Linked DNA regions of Homo sapiens. The protein of the gene in region 1 interacts with the protein of each later gene in a biochemical or structural test. Each region holds a gene or a part of one and is shown in the gene's direction. Other genes may lie near its edges.

What was found. Proteins that work in one complex are often made in the same cells at the same time.
Region 2: the proteins of AURKA (region 1) and MYT1L form a complex in vitro, tested with the Homo sapiens proteins (one study listed by BioGRID).

Annotation. Positions count from the first base shown.
Region 1 is NC_000020.11:56,378,716-56,382,215, reverse strand, and holds part of AURKA (aurora kinase A), read left to right. Parts: intron 1-644; coding exon 645-783; intron 784-3,500. UniProt on the Homo sapiens protein: Mitotic serine/threonine kinase that contributes to the regulation of cell cycle progression.
Region 2 is NC_000002.12:2,324,776-2,328,275, reverse strand, and holds part of MYT1L (myelin transcription factor 1-like protein), read left to right. Parts: intron 1-1,167; exon of another isoform or gene 1,168-3,500. UniProt on the Homo sapiens protein: Transcription factor that plays a key role in neuronal differentiation by specifically repressing expression of non-neuronal genes during neuron differentiation.

The DNA of each region.
Region 1 (3,500 bases):
GTCAAACTACTGTGGCAATGCCATGTCCTTTTTTTTTTTCCTTTTTTTTTTTGAGATGGAGTCTCGCTCTGTTGCCCAGACTGGAGTGCAGTGGCGCAATCTCAGCTCACTGCAACCTCTGCCTCCCAGGTTAAAGCGATTCTCCTGCCTCAGCCTCCTGAGTAGCTAGGATTGCAGGCATGCACCAACAAGCCTAGCTAATTTTTGTATTTTTAGTAGAGACGAGGTTTCACCATGTTGGCCAGGCTGGTCTTGAACTCCTGACCTCGCGATCCTCCCGCCTCGGCCTCCCAAAGTGCTGGGATTACAGGCGTGAGCCACTGTGCCCGGCCATGTCCTTTTTTTAATATGTAGATAATTAATATTCAGCTGAATTTTCCTCCTAAGAATAAAGGTGCCTAAAGGAAGGAAATAGTCTTAACTAAACCAGAGGTCCATTAATACTGTGAAGTGCTTTTAAAATGATATGTGGGTGTATGTATTTTTCTTGGAGTGGGTTTATAGTTTCAGATTCTAAAGTGGGGTTTGGAGTGTGGTTTCATGTGAAACACCACTGGTTTTACATGAAGAGTTTGTTTGACATTTTGTACATAGTCTTCTGTGAGCTCCAAACCAAGTGTTAGAATGTTTATCCTTTGTTGCAGGCATCCTAATATTCTTAGACTGTATGGTTATTTCCATGATGCTACCAGAGTCTACCTAATTCTGGAATATGCACCACTTGGAACAGTTTATAGAGAACTTCAGAAACTTTCAAAGTTTGATGAGCAGAGAACTGCTACTGTAAGTGTTCATTTATTGTCCAGGCTAATTGTGTTTCCTTTATACCTGTCCTCCATAGCAATGTACCTTTCATCATAGTAGAGTGGGTTTTGTCTTGACGTAAGGATAGCTTAATATCAAATATTTGAAGTGGAAAAATCAAAATAGCTTAGTTGTACCATATGTACAGATAAAGTCTAGAACCAGGTAGAATGTTGTATCTGCTTTTGTGCCTAGTTTGCACAGCTGTTTTCTATGGAAATGTATATAATGTATATAGATAGTCACCCTCATTTTCTTTAATAGATGTTTTATTTTAGAATAATTTTTATTTTATTTTATTTTTTTTAAAGGGACAGGGTCTTGTTATGTTGCCCAGGCTGGACTCAAGTGATTCTCCACCTCAGCCTCCCGAGTAGCTGGGACTACAGGTGCACACCATTGTACCTGGCTAGGATAGTTTTAGATTTACAGAAATTGTGAAGGCAGTACAGAGAGTTCCCATATACCCCACACTGAATTTCCTACTAATTCTCCTACTAACATCTTGCATTAATATGGCACATTTGTCACATTCAATGAACCAATATTGATATATAACTATTAACTCAAGTCCACATTTTATTCAGATTTTCTTAGTTTTTCTCATGATTAAATTGGGCTTATGGGTTTTTGAGAGGGAGATCAGAGGTAAAGTGCATTCTTATCACATACCAGGGATGTAAACTCTTATGACTTTTAACTGTGGATGTCAGCTTGATCTTCTGACTCAGAGAGTGTTTGTCTGGTTTCTCCACTGTAAAGTTACTATTTTTTCCCCTTTCCGTGCTGTATTTCTTCAAAGGAAGTTACTATGAATAGCCCACACTTAAGGAGTAGAGAGTGGATGGAGTATTGCCATAAATTATCTGGAATTCTGTGCCAGAGATAAGGCTGTTCTCCCTTATTTATTTAATCATTTATTTATTTAAAGATGTAGACTCCTGGGTATTTATTTTATCTCTTGAGCTATAATGCAATACTTTATTTTGTGGTTCAGATCATTGCAACTTTGGCCACTGGGAACTTTTTTTCTTTCTTTTTTTTTTTTTTTCTTTTTGAGACGGAGTCTCACTCTGTCGCCCAGGCTGGAGTGCAGTGGCGCTATCTTGGCTCACTGCAACCTCAGCCTCCCAGGTTGAAGCGATTCTTCTGCCTCAGCCTCCCAAGTAGCTGGAAGTACAGGCACCCACCACCACACCTGGCTAATTTTTGTATTTTTAGTAGAGACGGGGTTTCACCATATTGGCCAGGCTGGTCTTGAACTCCTGACCTTGTGATCCACCCACCTCAGCCTCCCAAAGTGCTGGGATTACAGGCATGAGCCACCGTGCCCGGCCTGCTCTTTTTGTTTTACCAGGTTCCTGGGAAAATCATTGCAGTTTTGTCTTGCGTGTGTGTGGTTTTTTTTTGGTTTGTTTTTACACTTCCTTTTTTTTTTTTTCTTTTTTTGAGATGGAATCTCACTCTGTCGCCCAGGCTGGAGTGCAGTGGCATAATCTTGGCTCACTGCAGCCTTCACCTCCTGGGTTCAAGCGATTCTCCTGCCTCAGCCTCCTGAGTAGCTAGGATTAACAGGCATGCACCACCACACCCGGCTCATTTTTGTATTTTTAGTAGAGATGGGGTTTTGCCATGTTGGCCAGGCTGGTCTCTAACCCCTGACCTCAGGTAATCTGCCCGCCTCAGCCTCCCAAAGTGCTAGGATTACAGGTGTGAGCCACCACGCCTGGCCTTGTACTTCCTTACTTTCTGATACAAGATGCTCAGGCCTCATCGTGTATATTTCCTGCTCCAGTCCTAGAATCGAACCACTTCTCCAAGGAGCCCTGTTTCCTTTTCTTGGAGAATGTTATTAGAAACCAAGCTCTGGGCACTTGGTGTACTCATTGCTACTATGGTGTCACTACTTTTAGGCTTTCAGCTGACACAGCAAGGGAATATATGTGGATAGTAATCTGTGTATAGATTTATCCATCTATCTCTTCATTAAGCATACCATGAATTCATACTGATGTCTTCAACTTGAATCCATTACCACGTTTCATTCTAACTTCCTCCTGTTTACCTGTAAACTCCCACTCCAAAAGTGTGAAACCTGGATTTCACCGCCCACCATCCTTTTACTTATTCAATTCCAATATACATGTATAATGGTATCAGAATTGTTAACCAGCTGCCACGTGGGAACCAACTTTATCAATTAGAGTGCTTATGTGCACTTCCTTTGGCCTTTGTCTTATAGATTCCACTCATTTCCAAAGCTGCTTGGATCAACACTTTACCCTCATGCCCTTTAGTAAGGTGGTTTCCTACATTTGTAATGCAATGAGATTTTTTTGTCACAATCTGCATGCCCAGGATGGAATCATTTACATTTTCATATCCTGAGATTGATTTTTGTGTGTTTGCTGTAAAGTTCTATGAATTTCGACAAATACACAATGCCATGTATCCACCATTATGATATAGAGAATAGTTTCGCTGCTCTTAAGAAAAAAAAAATCCTGTGTCTCAACTACTCATCCCTTCCAACCCTTCCATCTCTGGCAACCACTGATCTGTTTACTGTCTCTATTGCCTTTTCCAGAATATCATGTAATTGGAATCATAACAGTATGTAGCTTTTTTAGGTGGGCTTCTTCCACTTAGCAATATGCATTGAAGATTCATCTGTGTATTTTTGGAGGCATGAGAGC
Region 2 (3,500 bases), on another chromosome or scaffold:
CCCAATTATTTCACTGTCTGATGTTTTCTGTCTGCTTTCTGTGTCAATGTTTAATAGATTAGGGAAAAGAAATAAGTGATTATGCAATTTCAAAGATTTGTAAAGTTTTTCTATTTGTTACAATTATACTTAAAATTAAAAAATTGAGTTAATAATCTGATTATTTGTTCAGCTGCTTTTATAAATACTTTACATTTATAATTTTTAAAAGCCAATTACTTCTCTGTGAAAAATTAATTTTGTCAAGTAAATAATGTTTTCAAAGTCACATGCATAAACTAGATTTCCAACTCTACCTGTAAGCCAATTTAATTTGAGGGAGAGACATTATTTTAGAAATACATAATATACAATCTGAAAGACTTTGTTTACTTGTTATATATTTTAGTGGATACATTTTAACTTCAAACAACTTAAAGGTTTATTTACCCTTAAATATTTTATATTAAAAAAAACTCCTCTGTGGAATTAGAGGGACTAGTCAGATGCTCTTTGATAATGACCACTCTGCTTTGCACTTACAGTTTGGTTTGGCTGGGTGTCCCTTTTAGACCAGGGCTATAATTTTCAATCAATAACCAGTGTTTCCAATGCATGTTGTCCTTTGCCAGGAAGTCTACCTTGATGCAAAGTCTCACCAGAACTCTGTTCAGGAGGCAAATGAATGGTAGACTCAGAAAGAGAGATCTACAGTTTTGGTAAATTTTTATAATCTAATTACTCCATAGCGTAATTTGAGCGCAATGATGTTATGCATTTTCCTATTTCAAGTTTTTAAGAGTTCTTTTTTTGAATATCTTCTTTTTTATTTGAAAAGTTGTGTAGTATTCTTTAGAAAGGAGTAACTGAGGATAAACTTGAACAAAAACTTGCAAATAACATATTTTTCACCAAGCTAAGTTTCATCATACTGTATTCTGTACCACAACACAACACCTGACATTGATCTGCATTTCTTCCAAACAAAACTGAAGACAAAAGATACCACAAACTTGAAGAAGTAAATAGATGTAGGTTTGTGTTTGTGTGTGTGTGGTTGGGGGCAGTGTCATATCTACATATCATGGTTGCTGGTATGAAAAAGATATTTTAAATTGACATACCACCCCAATATTTAAAATATTGCCTATAGTGACCATAACTCATATGAAATAATACAAATATTCTACTTTTATAGTATTTTATTGCATGATTTTTTCTGATATTAGATTATTTAAAGGCAACAGCTATCCATTTTTTCCATCAGTGGGCTATTTCAATGCAATGTGGTTCTGTTTGTAATATCTTTGTGTCTTGTCTCTTCTCTCTCTTTCTCTCCACTTTCCTTTCTCTCTCTTCTGCCCCCTCTCTCTTTAACTTGGTCCCTGTTTGTCTGTTTTGCCACCCTCTCTTCTCTCTGTGTTTCTTTCACACCTGCATTGTTCAAGCATACACAGTGATTTTTCTATGCATGTTTCTACAATGGAAGTGTTTTTGGCTTTGACATCATAATGAGTCCTCAGGGTATCTGTAGAAGTAATCAGAGATGGCAGAGAAAATGTAAGCCAGGTGTTATAAAACTAGAAAGAATGCATGAATGCTTATTTATTAGATAGAGAAAGAGTGATAAGCATTGCTGTATTAGGCTGTTCTGCTAGGAAAATTTTCCTACCATGTACCTCTTTTAAAATAATCTCTGCTCCCCACGTGGTGATTATTGGAAAAGTTGGCGGGGGGGAATATTTTAGTCTTACTGTAAGGAGTATTGTGTTGTGAGAAGATGGAATGGTACAGGACATTCTCTTAAAGCTTTCCTTGCTTTCAGACTGCAGTGGTGTCTAGCAGGGCTCGATGGGAAGGGAATTGCAGCCTCTATAGTAACCAGTAAGTCTGGTCCCAACACATCAGGGAAGAGCTCGGTCTTCAGAGGAATTACCTCTGAGAGCTGGAAGAGGGTGTTCCTGGTAACTTGGGGCTTCTCTGTCAGTCTCCCCACGGAAACCACAGTCAGAGCTGTGCTCTGTGGAAAGCCTGCAGTGGCTGCTCCCTCGTGCTGTTCTGCTCTCGACTCTCACTCACTGTGGATAGTGGGCTGGTGGAGTGCGGGCGCCAGAGGGTAGGGGTGAATGGAATGGAAACACAGAGGGAACTGTGACCAGCACGTGCGATGGTCTCTCCACGGCAGACAGAGCCCTGCGTGGGTGAGAAGCAGACTGCGGAACAGGATTTGGCTTGATGGCCACCAGCTCTTCCACAAAAAGGTACCTCTTTCCTTTTATTGTAAAGGTTACATAGGATTTCTTTTTTTCTTAATTTGCCTGGTGGTTGCAGCTCCCAGTTCTTCTCTTAAGTACTTCAAAAATAGTTGTTTCTCCACCTGCCTGCCTATCTCCAGCTCTCATTTGATTGCATACACAACACTTCCTAAAGTCTCTTGGTTAGGCGTGTGAACGCGCCAACAATGGACCCTCTCTCAAAAGAGCTTCTCCTTCAGTGTAATGCCATTGTGGGCACTGCTATGTCTGCATGCTGCCCGGAGTTGTTGTTAAACATGAGTCTGTGTATTCAAGGCTAGTTTCCTGGGGCGAGGGTGGGAGGTGCTAAAGTAGCCTTTATGATTTAACGTAGCCTTTCATAGCGGTGAGTGTTATAGGAGAGAGGTTTGCAGAGAGTGAAACGGTATGGTCACCACCAGAGTAAAACATCTGTGGCTTGACTCAAGAAGCCATTTATAAAATCAGCACTTTTTTAAGCCAGAAAAAAATGCTAATGAACATCAGGTATCTATGTTCCCTTAGCTATTTTAAAAACCATATTAGGACTTGTCTTTTCAAAGAAAACTTTTTCTATATTTTTTTCTTCAAACAATAATAAAAGGTGAAAAATGTTTTAACTTTCTTAGACAAGTAGTTTCATAGCTTTTGTTTTAAAAGAAAACGATGCAAGAAGCTCATACTGAAACAGAATAATATAGTGAGGTTGGCAACCCGAAAACGATTTTAAGAATTGGTTAGAGTTAACTCTTGTGTCACCATTCTTTTATTTTAAGAAGTGACAGGTTTTGGAACCTCTTTTTGTTTTGCTTGGATGTTAACCAGCAATGCCATCTAAAATACTGTAGGTTCAGCTTACTTCTGTGAGGTTTCTTTGGCCACAGCATGAATTTACCATAACATCAATGATACGAGAGATATTTTTAGATATATTGCCTAGCTGGTAGCTGCTAACAGCCTGACTCCGGTATTTACAGTTCTCATCTATTACATTAAATACAGCACTGCTCATGATACACATTCTGCTCTAGAGATTTAGGGGCCTGTGGGTACAAGGCAAGCAGCATACTGCACACATCTCCACTCGTGTCTGACTGTGTTGCAAGCTTGATACACAGGAAGGTTAGAAATTACTGGTTTAATCCACAGCTGTAGCTTGAAAAATATCTAGATCAGCAGTGAAGTTCCCTCCCACCTTAGGATTTGGGGAAGTGGATATGTTTTGTGTTGCTTCAAGGAGGCAGCCTG